Linked DNA regions of Homo sapiens: region 2 is linked to region 1. Evidence: fine-mapped expression QTL. A gene starts in region 1. The other region holds a variant in brackets. All regions are shown on one strand. Distances are from middle to middle.

Region 1 (11,779 bases):
GAGCGCAGTGTGTAATCACAATTCTCTGAAGTCTTGACCTCCCAGGCTCAAGTGATCCTCCCACCTCAGCCTCCTCAGTAGCTGGGCCCACAGGCACCCGCTACCATGCCAGGCTAATTTTTTAATTTTTACTTTTTGTAGAGATGGCGCCTCCCTATGTTGATCAGGCTGGTCTCGAACTCCTGGGTTCAAGTGATCCTCCCACCTCGGCTACCCAAAGTGCTAGGATTACAGGCGTGAGGCACCAGACCCGATGGAGCCTCTTTTTTTATGGGAATGTTGCCTCCTGTTTTGAGCAGGGACAAGGGGAAAGGAGGCTGAGTGTGTGTGCCTGTGGGTGGTCGGGGTGGAGGGCAGCCTGCAAGGGGAGTGAGGGAGCAGGAGAGCCTCAGCATCTGCCAAGAGGATGAGTCACATCAGAGACACCAGTGAGCCCATGGAAGGCCTTGAGTGCCTGGATGGGATGCGGCAGGCAGGCAGGTGAGAATCATGGCAGGTTCTTGAGCAGAGGAGGGGCAGGGTGAGAGGATACTGGAACAGACACAAGGCAGGTTTCAGAGACAGGGCCAGGCAGGAGACTACAGGGACTCCCCAGAAGGAGGAGGGAGTTTCTTGGCTGGGAACGGGGGATGTGGGGGCCTGCCGGGCTCTGGGCACCCTCGGCTTCCATCTTTCAGGCCAGCATCCCAACTCCACATTGCCTTGGTCTCCACCTCCAATCCATACCACTCAGGGCAGTGTCAGGCGAGCACAGCAGGAGTTGGTGCCCAGCCTCCAGGCAGCCTGGCTTGTGGCCATCCCTGACCTCAGGCACTGCTTCTTGCCGTGTTCCTGCCACCTAAGGCTCTCAGAGGTCTGGGCTCCGTCTCGCTGCCCTGGAGTCCAGGCCCCTGCAGGACACTCCTCCTTCCACCAGCTTGGCAAGGCTCCCCCAGGCCCGGAGTCCTGCCCAGGGGCACTGGCCACACTGCCGCTGTCCGGATGCCACATACACCTGTGGGGCAGAGTGCAGAGGCAGGTGTGTTCTCCTTGCAGTCCTACTGCATTAACCACAGAGGAGCTGATCGGTGCCAGCCTCCGGCTCCACGCTCTGGTATGGCCAGCCCATGTGCCAAGGCTCTTGGGGAACCTTCTTCAGCCCTGCCTGCTGACTCCCCCTCACATTGGGGTTCAGCCCTCTGGTGTTCCCACGATCACTTCATCCCTCGCTCATTCATTCATTCATTCAGCTCATCTCTGCCTGCACCTTCAGTGGTCTTAGCTTTGGGCGACAAGCCTCTGCAGGTTTGGGGAGGCACCGGGAACGAGGGCCAGTCCCGCCTGGAGGGCCCATGGTGGGGCAGAGAAGGACATCCCTGGGCAGGGACAGTCACTGAGGTCAGAACCAAGCTCAAGGGCACACAGAGAAACACACCAACTAGGGATCGGGGAGGGCTTCCTGGAGGAGAGGTTGCCTGAATGGAGACCAGAAAGCCTAGCTGCAATGCAGGAGATGAAAGGGCAAGGCAGGCTGCTCCATGCTGAGGAACATTGTGTGCCAATGTCCCCTGGGGGTCCTTTGCTGTAGCTGTCGCTTGCAAGCTTGGCGAAGATCCTGCCGAGGAAGGGGTCCATGTTCTGCCTCCCGGCCAGGGCTGTTGGGATTGAACAGTACCTGGGTTGGGGCCCCAGTCTGGGCCTCTGGAGGAGCTGATGCGTGTCCTGGAGAAGGGACTAGGAGAAATGGCTGGGAGAAGACGGGAGGGCGCTGGTGGTTTCCAACCCCCTGAAACACTGTCCTGCCTCGGCAGAGGGGGTTAGCCCTGCCCCTGTGGGGCCACAGTTGTAGCTCAGAACTTTCTGGGCCATTGTTAAACGGTAGAGACTTCTTGGGGGGAATTTCTCATCACCTGAGGTGTGCAAGGAGGGGCTAGATGCCTCTTTTAGCCTGATGTATGGTTTTGACTATGAGCCTTGCCGGGCATCAGCAGTGGGATAGGTGGGAGGGGCCTAGCTGGGAGCAATCTGGGAAAGCTTGCAAGAAGAAGCAACTTTGGGAGCTGAGATGAGGAGGTTTCCACATGGACACTCCACAGAAGGGCATCTCAGGATGAGGGAACTCCCTGTGCAAGGACCCGGAAACAGAAGGTATGGACAGGGATGATGTAGCCGGAGCTCAGCCTGGCTGGGGAGGGCACCACAGCAGCAGCAGGGCCGAGCCTGGCCCAGGACCTAGCAGGTGGGCCCCTGAAGGAGCCCAGACCCCCAGGTGGCCTTGGTGAACCCCTGCTGACTGTTCGCAGCAGCACGCACACCCAGTGGCAGTTTCTGTCTTAGTGAGGCCACCTCGGTGCCATCCCCTGCTCTGTGTCCGCTCCCCTTGCCCAGGCTCAAGCATGGGAGGCCCAGGATGGTGCCCTCCGTACCCAGGCCCAGGGCATAAAGAGATAAGCCCAGTCACACTGAGATGAGATGGGATTTTGCTTGACAAATATTTGTTTGAAAATGGTTTCCCCTATTTACAGTTTTGAAGCCCAAGCCACAGCATCCAAACCACCTCCACCTGCTGGAAAGGCCTGACAGGGGCAGAGGCCCAGGGAGGAGGCCACTGCTGCTTCCCATGGAGACAGAGCAGGGCAGGCAGTGGGGTGGAGGCCAAGGGGCTCACAGCACCACCCCAGGAGGAGCAGTGGGCCAGACCCCTGGGCCTGGGACCTGCCTCGGACAGAGCACCTACGAGGCTCCCAGCTGCCTGTGCCCGCTTCCTACGGTCCCAGGCCCCCCTCATCGTTGCTCCCAGGACAAGCAGGTGAAGGAACAGGGCAGCGGGGTACGGTTAGGGTTAGGGCTGGGGTTAGGATTAGGGTTAGGATTTGGTTTGGGATTAGGGTTAGGGTCAGGTTGGGATTAGGCTTAGGTTTGGGGTTGGGATTATGGTTAGGATTTGGGCTAGTGCTTGGGGTGTTTTTGGCAGTGTTTAGTGTTAGGGTTAGGGCTGGGTTGGGGTTTGGTTTAATGTTCCTTTTGGGATTTGGTTTTGGGTTGGCGTCTGGGTTAACTTTAGCGTGTGGTGTGGGTTGAGGTTATTGCTTTCTGGCAGGACAGTGTTGGGGTTAGAGTCGGGTTTAGGGTTCATGTTACTGTTCAGGCTAGCATTGGGGTAGGGTTAAAGTTTGCTTTGGTTTTGGGTCCCATTAGAGTTAGGTTTAGCATTTGATATAGGTTGGAATTTGGGTTAATATTGCAGTTGGGGTCATTGTTAGATACACACTTGGGCCAATTCAGGGCCTTCTCACCACCTGTGGAGGGCAGCTGTAGCCCGATTCTGCAGGGGACTCCAGAGTTTCAGTTGGAGCACCTGTTGTTTGTGGGAGAGTGGGAAGATACCTCTCACCTTCCCATTCTCTAGGGCTCATAGTCAGAACCCTTGCTCAATCTGTTCTTGTGGGTGGGGATTGGAAGATGAGGCAGGGAACTGGTCAGCATGGCTAGCTGATGCTGGAGCCCCTGTATGTGGCTGTCTGCGGGTGCCTCACTGTCAATGACTTCCCTGACGTGCTGTCCTTTCTTTTATACTCAGCCACCAGGGCCAGAAGCCTGGCATCACACCAGGCTATTCCTATCTCCCCCACCTCCATCCATCCATGCATTCTTTGGCACATTTAACCATGAGCCCCAGTGTGGTGCCACTTCCTGCCCTGCTCCCTGACCACAGTAGAGGACCACGCATCCCAGCGGGGAGATTGATGTCCACATCAACAGACAGATCAGATAGCTCTGGAACGCAGTAAGAGACACGCAAAAAACAAAATAGGGCAACGAGATTGAGCCATGGGGATGGTGATGTCAAACAGAGTGGTCCGTAGAGGTCTGAATGAGGGCAGGGGCCTGAGGAGAGGGTCCTCCATGGCCCCAGGGCATCACCTCGAAGTCCTGCCACTTTCATCCCTTCTTCCCAACCCGGCTGAAACCTTGCCTCCTCCAGGAAGCCTGCCTGATGCCCCAGGCTCTGCTGCACTGACTGTAGTTTCCCCATCTGCAAAAAGGGGCTAGTACCACTTCCCCTACAGGGGCATTGCAGGGATGCTCCCAGACCCACAACCAATGCCTGCTTTCTCTCCGCCTTCCTAGCTTAAGGGGGCTGGAGTGGGAAGGATAGAAGAGAGGGCAGGGAGGGTGGGGACGGGAGGTGCGTGCAGCATGGGGGAGGGGCTCTCCTGGGGCCTTCCCAGGCAGGCCTGAGCTGAAGCCTGCAAGCTGCTGGAGCTGAAGCAGGAGCCGCCCCCACCCCACCCGCCCCTCCCCCGCCTCCCCAGCCATCTGTGGCGTTGGCAGCAGCAGTGCCAGGGCGGGCGGTGAACATTCTGGCACCATCTGAGCAGGACCAGCCTCTGGGGAAGGGCCGCAGCCCAGGAGGAGGCAATGTGGGCAGAGCCCTGCCTGTACCCCAGGTTCCACATCCCCCATTGGTGTTTGTCCCCTTAGGGACTGGGGAGGGAAGGGACACTGGAGCTGGCAGGCTGGGCCTCACTACCTCTCACAGGATGCCTCCACTGCTGTGTGCTGCCTGAATGGTGTCTGAACCTGAGAGGCCAGAGTGGAGGTCAGGGAGCCTGTCCCTACTCCTGCTGGGGAGACTAAGGCCCCCTTGAGCAAAGAGGCTGGTCCCGTGGTGCACACCAGCGACGGTTTGGGCGAAGTCTGTCCACGCTTCGCCCAAACTGGGAGAGCCCCGCCCTGAGCTGCCGCCTCTCATTTTGTCTTGACTGTGGTGGGGTGCACTTGGAGGCGCCTCCCTCTGTCCATTGGTTACCCAATCATGTCCCTGGGACCTGAGAGGGAGCAGAGACAGGACTTTGCTTGACACGAAGTGGCTCCAGTCAGCTGCTGGTTCTTTTGCTTGTCTCCTTTTTTTCTGGGTTTCCCCTCTTGCCTTGCTATCAGTGCCTTTTCTCAGCACTGACACTGCCTGAATGTAGCAACCTACTCCCCAGATTAAATGAGAGAGCGTAGAAACTGCAAAGCATACAACATACAGCATATAAGGATGGTGGTGATGGCAGCTCAACAGTGGGAACTCAGTGTCCCCAAACTGTACACTTTAAAAGTGGTTAAAATGGTAAATTTTATGTTTTCCATGTTTTCCACAATTAAAAAACAAAAATATACAAGGTACTCATTCGCAGCATCTTCTAATCTGCCATGTACTTGGAAATGATATAAGCATGTGTGAACCATGAGCCCATAGGTCCCGAGGGAGGATATGAGCGAAGCACACGGGCTTTGCCAGCTCTGTTTCCACCACGCAGGACCCTCCCTGGCTGCCAGTGCTCCTCCCCGGGTTCCCACGCTGGCTGCTGCTGGGCTGGCTGGGATGGAAGACCCTCATGTAGCTGGCACCCTCAGGGCTGCCCCTTGCCCGCTCTGGGAGGAGAGAGGAGGGTTCACGCTGCACCTTTACCAGGGTAGGACTGGCCAGCCTGGGCTCTACCGGGCAGGTCGGTGGGATGCTTCAGACTGGAGGGATAGGCAGGGGGCAACACTGGTCCTCCTGAAGCCACCTTCCCTTCCTGAGAGCTCCTTGGGGAGAAGGCAAGCCCTGGAAGCCACCGACTGGGGGCTCGGGCAGAGCAAGGGCAGGGTAAGGGGCAGCTTGGCCAGGAGGCACCCTTGGGAGCCAGGGTTTCCTCATCTGTAAAATGTGACTCTGCGAGGGCAGGAGCTTGGTTTCACTCGCTACTGTACCCCCTGGGGCCTACAGCAGGGCTGGTTGGTACACACTAGGTGTCTAATAAATGTTGAGGGATTGAATGGATGGACCGATGAAAAGGTTGGGCAGGTCATTACTGACAGCCTCTGGGTTTCAAGGGCCCATTCACTCTGTCACTCACCTTCGCGCCCGTGCATTAGTTCTCTCATTTATTCATTCCCCCCGCCCCCCCAGCCCCGCATGCTCTACCGCACTCATTCATTCACGCGCTCAGCCATTCAAGCTGGCGCGGGTTCATTCATTCCCTGCCCCTCTGCCATTCCTCGCCTGGCCCCCGCGCACGCCGCACCCCCGCGCCCCTGCCCGGCCCTGCGCCCACCACTTGCGCCCCGGCCGGGCGCTGCCGGGAGGACGCGCGGGCTCAGCCGCGGCTGCGCGGGGCCGGGGCTGGCGGGGAGCCGGGCTGGGGGCGGGGGGCGGGCGCTCCCTGCGGGAAGCCGGGCGGGGTGGGGGAGCCCCGGCCGCGCCGGCTCCCGGCGCGCTCGGCCTCGGAGGGGAGGGGGCGGCGGTAGCGGCGGCGGCGGTGAGCGGCGCGGCTGCCCTGGGGCCATGTGGACTGGCGGTCGCCGGCCGGGCCGGCTGCGCCGGGCGGTGAGTACCTGCGAGCCGGGAGGGCAGGGCGCGGGCGCGGGCGCGGAGGCGGGGCGGGCGCCACCCACGCCTGGGGCGGTCCCTGCTCAGCGCGGGAGGTGGCCGGCCCCCCGCCCCGCTCCCCTCCGCGCTGCGCCCCCGCCGTGGAGGCTTCACTGGCCCGGGAGGAGCCGGGCCGGGTCTCCTGGGAACTGGGCACTCTCGGGTGGGGCGGGGATGCCCAGCCTCCGCGCGCCGCCGGGAGCGCCCGGGTCCTATCGCGGGGTCCTTGCGCCCTGACACGCGCGCCCCTGCGGCGGAAGGAAAGGAGGGACGGGTGACCAAGGGCGCGGCCGGAGGACTGGGGACCCGCCGCTGTCCCGGGCGGGTGGCGAGGGTGCGGGCAGGCCTGGACCCGCCTGCGTCTGGGGGCAGGGCCAGCCCCTGCTTGGGAGGCCGGAGAAAGGCCCGGGAGCCGGAAGGAGGCTGGACCCGGGGCCGCCTCATTGAGCGTTTGCAGCGCGTGGGCGCGCACGAACCTCGGACACCACCATCCCATTCAGTACCTCGCGGCAGGTACTATCCTCCTGCCCCTTTACAGGCGAGGAAACTGAGGCTCAGGGAGGCCAGGGCCTCGCCCAGAGCGGCTCAGCCGGCGCGCTCACCCTCCCTGAGCCCCAGCACGTTGGATGGGAATTTCTGCCCCAGCGTTTCCGCTTCCTGCTTGGTTTAGAGGTGTTTCCTTCCTCGTCTGTGCCCCACCCCATCCCCAATGTGGTTTCCTCAGGGCAGGAACAGCGTGGGCGACGCGCTGGAGTCTCCTGAGCCGGCAGAATGGGAGCAGAGTGGGCACCCGGGAGCGGGGCCGGATGGATAGGGAGCACTGCACGTGCAAAGTCCGCATGGCCAAGGTCGGCCGCCAGTGCAGACTGGGGGTCCAGGCCCTGGGGGTATGGGTGGGGCGGGGTCTCCACAGCCAGGCTCCGTCGGAGGCCCCAGTGCTCTGGCTCTCTGGAGGCCATGGACAGGTTCTTTTCCTTCTCTGGACCCTAGTTCCTCTGCCTGCCAAGAGCAGCAGAGACCCCCACTACTCCCAGGGCCAGGCTCCCACGAGGACTGTGGGCAGAAGCCCCTAACAAACTGCGGTGTGCAGCCCTGCCAGGCTGGCCTTGGTCTTGCCAGCAGGGGCAACTGGCCGTTGGGGGTGGCTCTGCCTGGCATCTGTGACACGCAGGGCGGGGAGACGGCAGAGAGGGCCCCAGCAGCATCCTGCAAACCCTTAATTTTCCCGACTCTCACTATAATCAGGGCAGCTTGGAAAAGCAAGCACTGTGGCAGATGCGGCTCTGCCCGGGCTCAGCACACGGGCTCTGGGCGATGGGCGGCTGCGCTGCCGCCAAGGGCCCTCCCCAGCTTTTGTCTCATATTTATAGATTCCAAGGCTCCGCGTTCCGTTTGTCGTCAAAACCTGGAGCTGTTCGCACCTGGGAGCTGAGTGGGGAGGGGAGGGCTGCCTAGAACCTCAGCCTGGAGGATGAGTTTTCCATGCGCTGGGGTGGAGTAGGGGGACACCTGTCAGAGCCCAGGCCTGGAGAGAGGAAATGAGCCCTAAGCAATCTGGAAGATCTTCCATCCACTCTCCCAAGACTTGGGCGCAGGGTCTGGCCCACATAGCTGCCATTTATGGAACGCCTGCTATGTACTGGGCCCTGGATCAGCATTTCCACGCATCATCTCCACGGCAACACTTTGAAGGAGCTTCCCTACTCCTGCAGGCACTCCTGATGCTGAAGAGTGGATGGATGGATGAATGGATGGATGGATGGATGGATGGATGGATGGATGGATGGATGGGAGGGAGGGAGGGATGGATGGGAGGGATGGATGGATGGGAGGGAGGGAGGGAGGGATGGATGGATGGGAGGGAGGGAGGGAGGGATGGATGGGAGGGAGGGAAGGAGGGATGGATGGGAGGGATGGGAGGGATGGATGGATGGGATGGATGGATGGATGGATGGGAGGGAGGGAGGGAGGGAGGGATGGATGGATGGATGGATGGATGGATGGATGGATGGGAGGGATTGACTGAAGCCCATGAGTCCATGGCTATTGGACACAGTCCACAAATCATTACCCAGGGTCCCAGGAGGTGGGGTCCAAGGGCTGAGTAGTTGCTGAACAGATGAAGGGGTCAAGGTGTGTTACAGGAGCCTGGCCCAAGGCCTGAAGGTGATGGGGAGAGTGTAGAGTGTTCAAGTCTCAAGACTTAGAGAGGCTGTGTCCTGCTGGAGTGTGGAAGCCATGGCGGTGGGGAGGTGTGGCTCCTCCCCCTAAGGGAGGTAAGGATCCCTGGGACAGATGGGTGGGTGACCCTAGGACTCGCCGTGTTGGTCTAGAATCACCCCGCATGGTTCTCTTCTGACTCCCCTTCCTGCCGCAGAGCTGGTCGCTAGCCTTAGTGGAGAGGCCTGGACGGAGGTCTGCAGCCCTGGGTTCTGGTTCCTCCTCTGCCGCTGACTCACTGTCTCCTCTCTAGGGCTCCGTATCAGAAGCTTAACACCCATTACAGTCAGGGGAGTGACTTCTGTGGCCTGAGAGCAGGCATCAGATTGTAGCCTGTGGTGGGAGAAGCTGGCCAGAGGTGTCTCTATTGCTTTAATCATTATAGGAATGAATGAATGAATGAATGATGAATGACTAAGTGTGTGAATTCTACACTCACCTAACATGCTGTACCTAAGCACCCACTCTGCACTGCTCATTGGGGTCACTTAGGTGAGTCTGACACAGACCTTGCCCTCCACGAGTCCACAGTTTGCTGGGAGACATGGACCTTGGCCAGTACGGCAGGAGTCAGGAGCTGCTGGGGCTCTTCTCTCCCCTCTAGCCAGGAAGGGAACTCAAAAGTGGCCCTTGCCTCAGCAGGCCTTGAGTCTGGAGGACAGTACAGCAGCCTCTGTGGTCTGCCTGGGGTGGGGATCAGCCAGGGCCCAGCTCTGAGCCAAGCAGGGGAATTGCAGTCATTGGTTCAATCAGCAAGCCCTGAGCCCAAGTCAGGGATGGAGATGGGTCAGGCCTGGGCTTTGCCTGGGGAAGCCAGACATGGAAGCCTGGTCATCCCACAGTGGGTGCATGCTGGGATTAAGAGGTGCATGAGGTGGAGAAGCAACGCAGGCATGCTGAAGGGGATGCATGGGTGGATGATACTGTATGGAAGGGAAGCACTAGCAGGATAGAGCAGCGGATGGATGGGTAGAAACCTAGAGGGATAGGCTGGGCGCAGCGGCTCACGCCTGTAATCCCAGCACTTTGGGAGGCCAAGGTGAGTGGACCACCTGAGGTCAGGAGTTCAAGACCAGCCTGACCAATATGGTGAAACCCCGTCTCTATAAAAATACAAAAAAAATTAGGTGGGTGTGGTGGTGTGCACCTGTAGTTCCAGCCATTTGGGAGGCTGAGACAGGAGAATTGCTTGAACCCAGGAGGCAGAGGTGAGGTTGCAGTGAGCCGAGATCGTGCCACTACACTCCAGCCCCTGGGCAACAGAGTGAGACTCCATCAAAAAAAAAAAAAAAAAGGAAGAAAAACGAAAGAGAGAGAGAGAAAGAAAGAAAAAAAGAAAAGAAAGAAAGAAAGAGAGAAAGAGGGATAGATGGACGGGAGGAGAGGTTGATGGATGTAAGTAGCAAGATAGGGATGGGTGGGTGGACAGATGGAAAAGTTGATATGGATACAGGACTGGATTGATAGAACAAAATATCAATGGATGATACATGGGTGGAGGGAGGGAGACTTCTGATACACAAGGCAAGATTGGTAGATGAATGGATGGAAGGATCTTTGGATGGATGGATGAAGGAATGGATACATAAATGGATACAGGTAGTGCCTGGATGTTGGGATGGGTGGATGAATACTTGAATACATGTCCATGAATGATGGACAGAGGAATGAATGGACACTGGAAGAGTGAGTGCATGGATAGGTGATGAGTGTATATTGACGGATGTGTGGATAGAGGCCTGAGAAGGCAGCTCAGTGCACAAATGGATACAAAGCAATGGATGCATGGATACGAGACACAAGTAACAGAGGAATGGACAGACATGGAGGGATGGGCAGGCGGACAGATGGAGACGGGAGTGAGAGGACCAGTGAACAGATGAGTGCCCATCAGCGGGTGAGGGACACAGAGACAGAAGGATGTGTTGGTGCGTGGATGGCACCTGTAAATGGGTGAGCGGTCACAGGGGTGGATGGTGAAGGACGGTTGGTTGAATGGGTGAAGCTTCAGGTCACTCATGCCTTGATTTCCCAGATGCCAGTGTTTTGCTCACAGACCCCCATGTCCCTCTGCTTCAGAGACATATACTACGCAGGCGCAGGGTCAGGAGGGGGCTGATCAGACAGGGAGACTTAACCCCACCTTGACTTTGGTGGGAGAAAAGCCAACCCAAACTAACAGCTATTTGGCCTTTCCAGGCCCGCTTTGCCCTGGAAGACCCACTCAGGAAATAAGGAAGAAGCAGTGAGACCTCTTCGAAAGGTCAGCGGCCAGCCGGGGTTCCTACAGGGGCGTCCTTGCCCAGGGATCTCCCTGGAAGACCTGGACAGCTGTGTACATGTCCTATCTGAGGAAGAGAACTGGGGCACCTGTGTTGGGTGCTGGGGACTGGGAGACATCAAGACCATGGCTGCCCTTGGAGATTCTGAGGCCAGCGTGGAAAATCCAGGGACAGCGGGGCAGGTGATTAGGAGCACAAGTGTGCGGATTCCCAGAGCCTCAGTGTCCTCAACTGCAAAAGGGGAATAATAATAGACACTTCTGACTGGGCGCGGTGGCTCACGCCTGTAATCCCAGCACTTTGGGAGGCCGAGGTGGGCCGATCACGAGGTCAGGAGATCAAGACCATCCCGGCCAACATGGAGAAACCCCATCTCTACTAAAAATACAAAAATTAGCTGGGCATGGTGGTGCGTGCCTGTAATCCCAGCTACTTGGGAGGCTGAGGCAGGAGAATCGCTTAAACCGGGGAGTCAGAGGTTGCAGTGAGCCGAGATCGCGCCACTGCACTCTAGCCTGGCAGCAGAGCGAGACCTGTCTCAAAAACAAAAGAGAAAAAAGAAAGAAAGGAAAAAAAATAAACTTCTGTGCTGGGACGAGGGGAAGGTTGGTGAAGGTGACCACACCTCTGCTGGCCTATGCTGCGGCCCCTGGCGCATGCCCGCACCATGGGGGTTTACCCGAGACCCCTCAGAGCCCAGTTTCCTCCTCCGTGAAGCGGGGTAGCTGCTCCTAGCTTTCAGGCCTGCTGTAAGAATGAAGCGAGGTGACGTTTGGCACTGTCAGCAGAAGCCCGGCATGCCTGCCCACTCGGCAGGGTCCTCCCAACATCCTGTGGCCTGGTCTTCCTGCTCCAATCCCAGCAGACAGTGGGCAGCCTCATGCCCCTTCTGTCC
Region 2 (11,779 bases), 42 kb after region 1:
GCTGTCCGTATGCAGTTATTTTTTCAATGGGATTATACGGCTCTTTTTCTGAGCACGCCCATCTGCCTGAATCTTGAAGCACTGTTTGAAAGCCAGATTTCTGGGGCAGCATCAGAGCCTTATTGATGGAACCAGCCCCTCTAGGCAGAGGTTGGATCTCCTGCTTTGGCGCAGGGTGAGCAGGGCTGCCCGGGCGTCTCTGCGAGCCCTCCAGCTGATCCCCAGAGAGAACCCAGGAGGGGGACAACCAAGAGGGCACTCGTCTGGGCGCTGTGTCCTCCAGCAGGCCAACACCCTAGCAGGGCCGGGCCGGGCCCATGTCCTTCCTCACACCCATCTGTCCAGCCCACATAGGCCACAGGCAGGGGCAGGGGAGCAGGGGCCCCGGGGCAGGGTGAAGTGGACCCCGGATCCCTAACATCTGCCAGGTCCCACAGCCTACAGGAGACCATACAGCAGCCATCAGGGCCTCCTCCTGACCCGCCAATCCTGCACGCCAGGAACCCAGCCCTGCAACAGGCAGGCACCCGACAGATGCAGAGCTAGTAGGGAGGGGGAGCTTGCACCCATCACTCCCCTCTGAGGTTGAGACAATGGACCAGACCCCACCTGTGTCCTGTGAGGCAGGGCTGAGGGTAGACCTGCCGCTCTGCAGGGAACAACTGACTTCAGGGGCTGCTGCTGCGCCCCCCGCCCAGTGATGGGACAGGATGCTCAAAAGAGGCACTGAGCGAGTGACCAGTGACCCTGCCATGGTGGGACTCAGTGCCACCGCTGAGCTGGGACCCTTCAGAGTGAGGAGTGAGGGCTGGCAGGTGCAAGGCTGGGCCCCCTTCTCTGGTACCCACATCCCCAACCCCTGCTACTTTGCAGATGACAAGTTTTCCTGGCAGGGGGTGGGGACCAACTCCCCATCTCTCTCGGTCTCAGCCAAGGGGCTGTGGCTGTGCCCCTGATGGTGGGCCACGCATGGCCCCCAGCCCTGCCCACCCCGGCCTGTTCTGAGCAGCTCTGTCCTCTTTGCCCACAGGCTGCGCAGCCCCTGGGTGCCCTTGTGCCTCGGGCAGCCCCGAGTACTGCAGGGCCGGCTGGCCAGGTCCTCGCCCTCCATCTGGGACAGGTAACATACCTGTTGTCTCCCCCGGCTCCCTGGTGTCTCTGCGTCTGTCCCCAGACATCTGTCCCGTGTCTGTGTCCAACTCCCCGAGACAGATGCAGAGGCCCAGAAGGTGAAGGTGAAGGCGTGGGCCGGCGGCACAGCCTCACAGCCCTCAGCCCAGCATCCCAGCCAAGGGCTCCTTCCTTGGGCTTGGACCCCCTGCAAGTGGCCAGAAGGGGCTCTCGGTGGAAGGCAGAAGGGAGATCCCTCGAGGCCCCACCATGTGCCAGGGGAGCTGGGCACTCACCCCAGTCCAGGGAATTCCCACAGGCAAGGAGGGAGCCAAGAATCACGTGCGCACGCACACGCACACCACACACACGCACACGTGCACACACACTGCCGGTTAGCCCCAGATTCTGGTGTAACTCACCAGGCAGCAAGCCCAGCAGGGCCCCCCAGGCCCCCAGGCCTGGAAGGGTGGCCCCAGCCTGGAGGGCGTGGCCCTGGCGCTCGGAGCACCACAGCCCTCCCTGTATGTCTGCTAAGGAGCTGTTTCCAGACGCTGGGGACTCCCTGACCCATCTCGGCCCTTGCCAGGACACCTTTTCACCCAGGGCAGGGGACAGAGGCCTCTGAGCCACAGGCCTCCAGCAGTTTCCCCCAGATTCCCAGTGGCCTGGTGGCCCCACCCCACACAGTGCCACCTCTTGACATTGTCCACTGTGTGGAGGGTGCTACTATGTAGAATGTGGACCAGCAACAGCCCTGCCCCCGTGTCTGGGTGCACCATCCAGTTCTGCAGATGTGGAGACAGGCTGCCGTGGCAGGGCTCGGGTTATTGCCCGGTGTGGGGAACACTGGACAGGGAAGGAGGTACTACCCGGGTGACCGCAGACCCTAGGTACACAGCCTGGACTGGGCAGAGGGGACACGTTCAGAGGTGTGAGAAGCTGAACCCCCAGGACTTAGTGACAGGGCTGTGAGGGGTAAAGAGGGGTCACCATGCCCACCCCCCGGGTGGGGAACGTGGAGGGCAGTGAAGGTGTGGTGGATGTGGCTGCATTGGACGGGTTGGGTGTGGAGATGCCTGAGGGCCATAGGTGGGTGGCTGGACGTGGTGAGGGTATGGAGCCTGACAGACACCCCGCTGGAGTCAGATGGAAACCTGGGAGGGGTCCCTGTGCAGCTGGCTTGGAGGGGATTTGGTCTGAGCATGCAGGGCAGGGGTGCAGGTGCAAACCGGGGCCCCAGGGAACAGCCCGGGCGAGGTCGGGAGGGGCCTGTGGTGTGATCGCCGGACCAGCAGAGGTGGGGAAAGACGTGGCAGGAACCCTGGGGCGGCCAAGTGCGGGGCATCAGCTATGCCTGGGGACGGGGTGCGTGTCCATGGCCCGATGCCTGCAGCAAGCGGACACTGAGGCAGAGAGGGGTGTGAGAGTCAGGGGCTGGGGGCACTGCTAGCCCAAAGATTGGTTGGGTGTAGCAGGTGGTTGGGTGTGAAGGACTTGGGGAGGGGGAGCAGTATTTAAGGGCTGGTGGAACAGGGAGTTGACTGCTGTATCTGGAAGGCCATCCAAAGGCCAGGGGTAAACTGAGGCTCTGTGAAGCTGCCTGACTTGTGAGATGTCTGCCCCGAGCCCACCCCATAGCCCCTTCGTCCTCCCCTCCCACACCTGCCCCGTGGAGAATCCCTGCCTAGCTCATTGTCTGCCTCCCCTCTGGACCGCAGGCTCCCGGGGCAGGGGCAGGGTTTGTCTTACTCCTGGCTGTGAGGTCTCAGACAGGTTGCTTGCTCTGAGAGGTGAGGGTAGGGACCTCAGGGTGCCCAGAAGGGGCAGGGCTGGGTGAGGGGGCACAGTGAGCTAGGGGTGCAGGTCTCAGAATAGCAAGGACCTAAGGCTGCTCAGTGAGGCCTGGGGTGTGGCTGGAGAAGGGGTGAGGACTCGGGGCTGAGGTGGCCACGTGGGTGGATGGATGACGCCCTCACCTCTTCCCGAGGGCTGTGGGTACACCAGGAGCCCCTGCAGGGAACAGTCGACTTCAGGGGCTGCTGTGCAGCCCATTGTGCCTGCCCTAGGAGCCCAGGATGGCATAGGAGTCCCCAGGAAGTTCACCACCTCCCTGGGGAGGACAGGTCTGTGTGGGAAGCAGCCTGGGACCTGTAGCTATAGAGTGCTAGAAGTGGGGCAGCCACGGAAGGCTGCCTGGAGGAGGTGGAAGGAGGCCTGAGCACTGTCCCAGAGAGCGCTCCCGGAGGCAGACCCACGTGGGCAGCTGTGGCACTTTGCCTCAGGGCTTCCCTCTTTGCTTGTTACTCTACTTCCTCTTGTGGTGACTGACTCTTGGGAAGACCCGCCCTGCCCTTCTCTGAGGTTCTCAAAAACGTAAGCGACGCTTTATTTTTATTTGTTTTTAAAAATATAGCCCTGGGCAGGAATCCAAGAGTGCTTCCTGGAGGCTTGCTGGGTGTGTGCCCGCAGTGCCACATGCGGTTTACTCACGGGGCCCAGACAGAAGATGCCTCTGCTCGGGGCTGGGGGACAGTGGTGGCCCCAGGGGGACTGGGAGCCTCCTGCCTGCCCTCTACTCCCCTCGCTTGGGTTTGGGTCGGGAATATCACAAGAACGCGGGCTTTTGCCCAAGGTCCCACAGCACATCTGGGCAGAGTCAGGGTTCCAGGCCCTCTCCCACACCTCAAGTTTCCTTCATGACACCCGGGACTTCTGCCTGTCCCGTCCCCATCTCACAGCAACACAATCCAAAAGATGTTGGTCCCAGATAGCCCCTGGGCTGTGCACCCATTGCAAGGAAAGAACTGCTGGCTGCTGACCCCACTCTGACCCAGACAACCGGAAGTGCAGCCCCTGCCTTGGGGAGCTCCGAGCCATCCCTGTTGGAGGCCCCCACACTACCCTCCTGCCTTTGCACAGCTTTAGTTCAGGTGAATTGTTGGCAGGTGGCTCGGAAGAGTGGGTCATAGTGGGTCTCTGTTTCCTGAGCATGTGGGGCTCTGCATCCTGGGGTCCTACCCTCCAGGAGACCCCATTCTGGGGGAAGAAAATAGAGCCTCAAGAATTGTCTGGGTTTCTGGAAGGCTTCCTGGAGGAAGGGGAACTTGAGCAGGCCAGGACCTTGCCAGGTTTCCCGTGCTGCATGCAGCCTCATTGGCCATGGTGGCAGACACTGCCCGGGCATGGGACATTGCCACCAAACATCTCTCTGGCCCAGAGAAGTGACCCAGGGTCCCAGGGCCACACAGCCATTTTGGGGAAAGCAGGTCTGGTCTTGGGCATGGCACTGCTGACTCTGGGCCTCAGCCATCCCAACCTAGCACTGTGGAGGAGCAGGAGTGAGGGCCCCAGTCACCTGTGCCACCCAGGGCCAGCTCTGTGATAGCCTGGGTGCTGATGGGTGCTCTTTGTACCTGGGTCCTTTAAACCGCCCCCAACACACTGGCCAGGTTCTGGGGTCAAAGACTCCTCCAGCCACCACCTGGGATTTACCTGTGTGAGGGACACTGGTGGAGTCTGAGGAACCGCCCAGGCCAGACTGGCTCAGGGTCAGAGTCCCTGACTCTGGGGCGCCATGGTCTTCAGTGACGCCCGGGAGGCTGGGTGTGTGTGAGTGTGTGTGTGTGTGTGTGTGTGTGTGTGTGTGCGCGCGCGCGCGCGCGCCGGTACTCGCGTGTTAGTGCGGCACGCCCCGGCTGGCCTGCGGGCCTTAGTTTCCCCCGCTCAGCGCCGCGGCCCGGCCCGCCGCCGCCATGTCGTTGCAGCGCGCTGCAGGAGCAGAAGGGCGAGCTGCGCAAGCGGCTGTCCTACACCACACACAAGCTCGAGAAGCTCGAGACCGAGTTCGACTCCACGCGCCACTACCTGGAGATCGAGCTGCGGCGCGCGCAGGAGGAACTGGAGAAGGTCACGGAGAAGCTGCGCAGGTGAGGGGCGGGGCGAGGGCCGGGGCGGGGCGAGGGCCGGGGCGGGGCGAGGGCCGGGGCGGGGCGAGGGCCGGGGCGGGGCGAGGGCCGGGGCGGGGCGAGGGCCGGGGCGGGGCGAGGGCCGGGGCGGGGCGAGGGCCGGGGCGGGGCGAGGGCCGGGGTGGGGCAGGGCCCGAGGCCCGGAAAGCCGCACGCGGTGCTCCCCTCTCACCCTGGCTGTTGAC[T/C]CCACTCAGATGGGGAGTCCAGAGGTTCTGGTAGGGGAAGCTCTTCCTCCAAAGTCACACTATGGAGCAGCTGAGCCAGGATTTGAACCCAGCAGATCTCCAGACCCAGACTGGTCCACCCGGGGCCCAGCCATGGTTCCCTGGGTCCTGATGGGAAAAGCTGTGTCTAGCCCGGAGATGAACCAGTTTAGGGACCCTTCCCTTGAGCGCGTACGGGCTAATGAAGTGTCGATCCAGTTGTGCTGGACTCCCTCAAACACCAAACTTTTCTAAAAGCAGTTTTCTTGTGCACATTTAAAATGGATGTTTTTCTGAAATGTAATATGCACTTTCTCATCTTCTTAAACAGAAAATGCAAGAAGCATGCAACCTTTGCTGTTGGCTTGATTTGTTTTAGGTATTTGTAGAGAATCGGCTGGTGTTGCCCCTAGGGAGGACTTGCCATAGGGAGAGGGTTTGTCCCTCTCCGAACAGCCCCAGCTCCTGAGTGTTTTGAATGTCACCCTCCATTCATGTGGAAACCAAGCTTGGGCAGTGCAGTCAGACCTCAGTTAAAATCTGGGCCCTGCCAGTTACTGCTTTAAGTAATTAAAGTTTCACCTCAGTTTCCCTATTGGCAAGACAGGGGCCATAACACGACACATAGGTTGTCTGAGGCTGGACACCATCCCCAAGCCCCCTCCCACCAGCAATGGAATCTCCAAGCACCTGATTCCCACCTGACACTCAGCTCCACTCCTCCTACCCGGCAGAACCGAGTCTTGTTCACTGTGATGTCTCCAGCCTCACCCTGGGGCCCATCACATAGTTAGTGTTAAGTTTCTTCCCTGCTCATTTGCATTTGAACTGTCAACCCCATAACAGGTTTGTAAGAATTGTGGGTCAAATGTGAGTAAACTGGCTCCGCGTGTGGATGGGACAGAGTCTCTTGTGAATAACAAGCCTTCCCTTCCCATCTTCAGGGGGTCCCGGGGTGGAGGGGGAAATACAGTCCTGGGCCCTGGCCTAGGAAAGGCTTCTACAAAAGTTTGCTTTAATGGGATGTTCTCTGCTGTGTGCAGAGGGGCACACATTCCACCAGGGTGAAGCTGGTGGGGTGAGCTCAGGAGGTCCAAATTCAGCCCCACCCTGCTCAGCAGGCTGTGCGGCCATAAGGGTCGTGGGAGGGACAGGCCTTGCATGGCAGTGACCCCCTTGCCTCCTGCACCAGGATTCAGAGCAACTACATGGCACTGCAGAGGATCAACCAGGAGCTGGAGGACAAGCTGTACCGCATGGTGAGGCCGCCACGCAGCGCCCACTCCCCCACCCCACACCTCCTTCCCGGGGGGAGCCACCCAGCTGACACCCCTGGGCCACTCAGGAGCTGGGACACAGGTCTTGCTGGTCCCACCCCTTTCTCCATGGAACATGTGGAGCAGGGTGTGTGCTCTCAGGCTAAGGAAGTACTTGGGTCCAGGGCTGCCCTGTGCTGCCTGAGTGGCGGGTGCGAGCACTCCAGCCTGGGGGTGTGTAAGAGGGGCTGTGGACGGAGGACATACACTGGGAACGGGCCCCCCAGCTCAGCCTGCCAGTCCAAGGACCTGGGCCCAGGAGGATAGGGAGGCCCGAATTCAGGCCCTGGGTGAGCCAGAGGCAGGTTTGAGCCCCAGCTCCGCCTCTCATGGGGACCCCTCTGTGGGGACCCTCACACCACCTGCAGGTGACCTCAGTGGGGTCGCCATTTTCTCTGTGAACACACTGCTGGGACATGTCGAAGAGGGGCAGGGTGTGGGTTTCTGGTGCCACTCCCTCACTAGGATGAAGAGGTTTCCTTTCTTTCTACTTTGGTGACCAGCTCATTTTGGTTTTGAAAGCAACAACCTGCCCACCTTTGTGGTGCTATCAGAGACGGGGGGTGGCAGGCCTGGGGGCTGGGCCTGGCTCTGCCTGGGTGCCTGGACACCGGCCCTTTCCTGAGCCTCAGTTTCCCAATCTGTCCAGTGAGGTGGGCTGGGCTCTATGCCAGGCACAAGTCATCTGTCCTCCGTCCCCACTCCCAGCTCCTGAGGCAGGACGCTGTCACCTCTGTGTTGCACATGAGAAACTGAGGCTCAGAGGCAGTGACGTCCCCAAGGCTGTGTGGCTTGGCAGTGTTGGACCCAGGAATTGAACCAGGGTCTGTCTGTGCTCATAAACCCCACACCCTTGGCCCTCTAAGTGTCTTGTCACTCATGGCTACAAGGGACAAACCAGGGGGTGCAATCGAGCGACTGGGTTGGCTCACCAGGAGCCAACCACGGGCCTCCTCCTCCCACTGTCCCACCCCCAGGGCCAGCACTATGAGGAGGAGAAGCGTGCGCTGAGCCACGAGATTGTTGCCCTCAACAGCCATCTGCTAGAAGCCAAGGTGACCATCGACAAGCTGTCAGAGGACAACGTGAGTGCCGCACACACTTGGCCCATGGAAGACTGCCGGTGGGCCTAGGCGAGGGCTTCCCAGGATGCACTGGGAGTCACATTCTGACTCTGAAGGGTCCTGAGCTCAGCTGCTTTGGCCCCAGCCTCAAGGGGCTGGTGCAGGGTACAGGTGGATGGACAGGCTGGTCAGGGCTTTGAGAAGGACCTGCTGCAGTTGGGGAAAGATGGTGCTGTCTCATTGAGGACGCCAAGGGTGTCCTTAAACAGACCCTCTGCTGTAAGGACTTGAGCTAGGGGATGCGGGGCCATATTATCCCATTCAAGGCAAGGCTTCCTGATCCCAAGGTGGGGTCATGGCCACTCAGGACTCCTGCCCTTGGCCAGTCCCAGTGTTGCATCACAGCCGTGTGGCTGCCCATGGGGCCTAATTTCAGGGACCCTGTGAGATGGGCCCAGTTGCCCTCCACAGACCCTGGACAGCTGCCTCTGCATTCACGAATTAGCTTCTACCTTGCCAGACCCTACTAGGCTCCAAGATGATGGTGTGAACAACACAGGCAAAAAAAAAAACAAAAAAAAAAACACCTCTGGCCACGTGGAGTTCACATCTGAGTGGGGCAAACTCTGGGGTATGTTAGAAGTGTGAAATGCTATAGAGAAACAGAAAGCGAAGAACGGTACCAGGGAGTCGCCAGCTGCAGGGCCTGCAGATTTCAAGAGGGTGCTTCTGGAAGGGGCTGCTGTGCCAGGACCTGAGGGAGTGAAGGAGCCAGCCATGCAGACATCCGTGGGAGAAGCATTGCTTCCAGGCAGAAGCAACCGTGGTGTGCAGCTGTACCTGGTTAACTCGGAGGATCCCAAAGGGGCCAAGGAGCGCCCAGCGGGAGGGGGAGCCAGGGTCTGAGGTCAGAAAGACCATAGGAGGCAATGTTGTAGAGGCTCCTCCCAGAAACCTGGGCTTTATTCTGAGTGCAGTGGGGAGCCATGGAGGGTTCTGAAAACAGAGGAGCAACGTGATTGCACGTGCAGCTTCCCAGGGCTCACGTGGCTGCCATGCTGGAAACAGGCTGTAGGGACGAGGACAGGAGCAGGAAGATCAGGAGGAGGCCAGGACCATAGTCCAAAAGATGATGGTGGCTCAGATGACGGTGGAACTGGGCAGAGGGCTGGGATTCTGGTTGTGTTTTGAAAATAGAATCAACAGGACTAACCAAGATTTAGGATGTGGGTTGTTAGAAGAAGAGCTGAGTCCAACCCAGCTACAGGATTCAGAGCCCAAACAAAAGGAGTTGCCTGCCATTTCCTGGCTGGGGACAGCTGGGGAGGGACAGGAGCTGGGTGGGAGATGCACAGGACCCCTTGGAGCGGAGATGTCACCAGGGCAGCAGGAGGCCCGGGTCTGGAGTTGAGCGTGAAGGCCGGCATGCCGGCGGAGACTGCCCAGGCAGCATGCAGATGAGAAGCAGGGAGGCCCCAGGACGGAGTAGGGACCAGCAAGGATGCCTGGGAGGGAGTGGCCAGTAGGCTGGGGGACACCAGGCGAGTATGGTGGCCCAACAACCACTTGAGAAGGGGGCTGCAGTCAATGCCCTGGCCGGCTGGCTTGCCAGCTGCTGAGAGACCAGGTCAGAGGGCCAAGGAGAGGCATTGGGATTTGGGGAACTGGAGGTCGGTGGTGGAGTGGAGCGGTGGTTCCAGACACAGGCCACCCTTCTAAGGAGTGTGGCTCTAACAGGAGGACAGGAGGACATGGGCTCGGGACAGGAGGTGCTTCTTAACGTGACAAGGCCAGGCCCCTTACCTAAGTGGACACTAGTCCTGGGGCCCTCTCTGCAGGGTTGGTGCACATGAGGAAACTAAGGCATGGCCAGCTTGAGTGGTTTCCCAGGTGACCCAGGTGGTGTCTCGCAGACGGAGCCAGAACTCAACCTCGGGACTCCGACTCCAGCAGCCCCGGGCCCTGGGTGGCCAGAGTGCTTGCCTCCACCTGTTCGCTCTGCCAGAGTGTCCCGTGAGCATTTCCTCCCCGAGCCAGCAGCTGCGGCTGCTCAGGAAAGGCTCCCAGCTGTCCCAGAGCTGGCCACCTCAGACATGGACAGCCCAGGGGCTTGGGTACTCAGCCAGGTGCCCCAGGGGCTATGGGCATGGCACCGGCTTCCCAGTGGCAGCCACTCCTGGCTGTGGCTGGTGGGGCTCAGTGGCAGACCTGGGCTGGCTGGGCAGTGCCTGCAGCCCTCTGGTGCCAGGGGCAGCCGGTCGACTGGGGTCATACAAGGGGTCAGTTCTCAGCTCTCAGGCAGCCGTGCTGTTCTGTTCCTAGGAGGCCCAGGGAGGCACTGAGAGGGGTTTGGCGACTCCGACGCCCTCCACCGTGTAGGCCAAGTTGGGGGCACCAGCCTTCAGTGAGGGAGGCTCCAGGGCCGTGGTGGGGGGACAGAAAGGTGCCTGTGTCAGAGACAGCCTTGCCTGGACAGCAGGATGCCTGGTGCTGGCTGGGTTGGGACTGTGGCCAGCCCTTGCCAGGAGCAGCCATGGGGCAGCTCAGGTGGGTCACTGGGCCTCCGGGCCACCCCAGGGCTAGCTGTCAGAGCCCTCGCAGTGGGGACCCCGGAGGGGCGGGAATGCAAGCCCCAAACACAGGCACATGCAACAGAGATTTTCAGTGGCGAAGCCACACCCCTTGAGTCCTACTGTTTGCATCTGTTTTCAGCTCAGGAGGCTGAGCCAGCGCCCGCCTGGGCCTGAGGTCACACACCTGCCCAGTCCCTGCCCAGCCCTGCAGCCACACTGTTTCCAAACCACACTCTGGGAAGAGGGTTGTGAGCAGCAAGTCTGAAGTGCGGGGTGGAAGGTGCTGGGGGTTCATCCTGCCTCCCATTCCTGCCTGGCACTCCCACCCCGTCATCTTTGGAAGGACGCCGAGAGCCTGAGGGACAGGGACAGGGAGACCAGGCCTGCTCTACGAGCCTGGGGGAGCTCAGGGCCATTGGGGCTCCTTCTTCTACCACTGCCCCCCACCTTGTGGGAGGTTCCCATCTTGGCAGTGCTCAAGGGCACCAGCTAGGGCAGCGGCAGGGCCCTCCATGCTCCGGCAGCCCCAGGTCAGAAAGAGGCTCTCATTTTGCAGGCAAGAGTGTGGAGGCCAGAGAGGGCCGGAGCCAGCAGTGGGTCCTTGTCCTGCTGAGCGCACAGCAGGCCCTGTGCACACCACTGCCCCCGCTGGCCACTTGGCGCTGGTCAGGGCGGCGGGGCCTTGGCTGGGGTGAATGGCGCCAAACGCCTTCTCTTGTCTTTTAGGAGCTCTATAGGAAGGACTGCAATCTAGCGGCCCAGCTGCTGCAGTGCAGCCAGACCTACGGCAGGGTCCACAAGGTGTCTGAGGTAACGTGGCCCCGCAGCCAGGCCCACCCCGCCCCGGGACCACCGGGCTCCTTTTGTGCCAGTGCTACCCCAAAGCCATTTCCCATCTTTGAGGAGGAAGATGCCAGCTGAGCCTGAGCCTCCTCTGTCCCCCTCGCTCCTGTGGGGTCATGACATTGGAGGGGCCGCCAAAGGCACCCCACCTCACGCAGCCGGGCAGCCCCTGGCCCTCACCAGAGTCCCTTTGGCCCACCCCGGCTGCTGGTTGCCCTCGGTTTCCTTTGGGGGGCTGCTCCAGGTCCTTGCTTCCACTGAGCGCTGACACGGCAGAGTGACCTTTGTGGAGCTTCGCAGGAGCCTGTGGCTGGGCACGATGACCGGCAGTGCCTATTTCAGAAAGAAAACATTCAGGAAAGAGGGCGTGGCTGAGGCCACGTGGCAGGCAGGTAGCAGAGCCAGGACCCAGAACCAGGCCTGTCTGATGCCAAGGGCAGATGGGCCAGAGGCCCACCCCTGCCCGCCTATGGTCGCCGCACCCTGCGCACCCCGTCCCCCGACCCTCCCCTCACATGCAATCTCCCAGCCAGGCCTGTGCGTTCCTTTCCCCTGGTCCTGGGCCATGCCTGAGACACTCACAAAATAGATCAAACAGTAGCGGGACACCCCCACATGGCACCAGGCGCTCTCAGCCCTGGCCCTCAATCTTTGTTGCATCTGAGTCTGTCTTCTTCAGGAGCGCTCCAGCAGCATGACTGG

Alleles and levels. Positions count from the first base shown, and alleles are read on the strand shown. Sizes are in standard deviations (SD) of each study's normalised expression.
In carriers of allele C in region 2, the expression in transverse colon of the gene that starts at base 6,172 in region 1 tends to be lower than with T alone (moderate effect, 0.58 SD a copy in GTEx).

Evidence for each region. PIP is the estimated chance that this variant, and not a neighbour inherited with it, causes the effect.
Region 2: its variant is fine-mapped to the expression of BEGAIN in transverse colon (GTEx, PIP 0.98). The same link has a PIP of 0.9 or more in aorta and unexposed skin.

Annotation. Positions count from the first base shown.
Region 1 is chr14:100,581,810-100,593,588 of GRCh38, reverse strand. BEGAIN (brain enriched guanylate kinase associated) reads left to right here and starts at 6,172. Exons shown (of 7, transcript NM_001385089.1): 1 at 6,172-6,340. The coding sequence starts at 6,299.
Region 2 is chr14:100,539,761-100,551,539 of GRCh38, reverse strand. It overlaps BEGAIN (brain enriched guanylate kinase associated), which reads left to right. Exons shown (of 7, transcript NM_001385089.1): 3 at 4,878-5,039; 4 at 6,474-6,540; 5 at 7,575-7,682; 6 at 10,961-11,044. It overlaps LOC124903382 (a long non-coding RNA gene), which reads right to left. Exons shown (of 2, transcript XR_007064334.1): 2 at 8,597-11,410. Among named protein-coding and RNA genes, the nearest start is that of BEGAIN, 42 kb to the left of the region's middle. RefSeq lists an enhancer at 4,482-4,611. The variant T/C (reference allele first, on the strand shown) is at 5,264.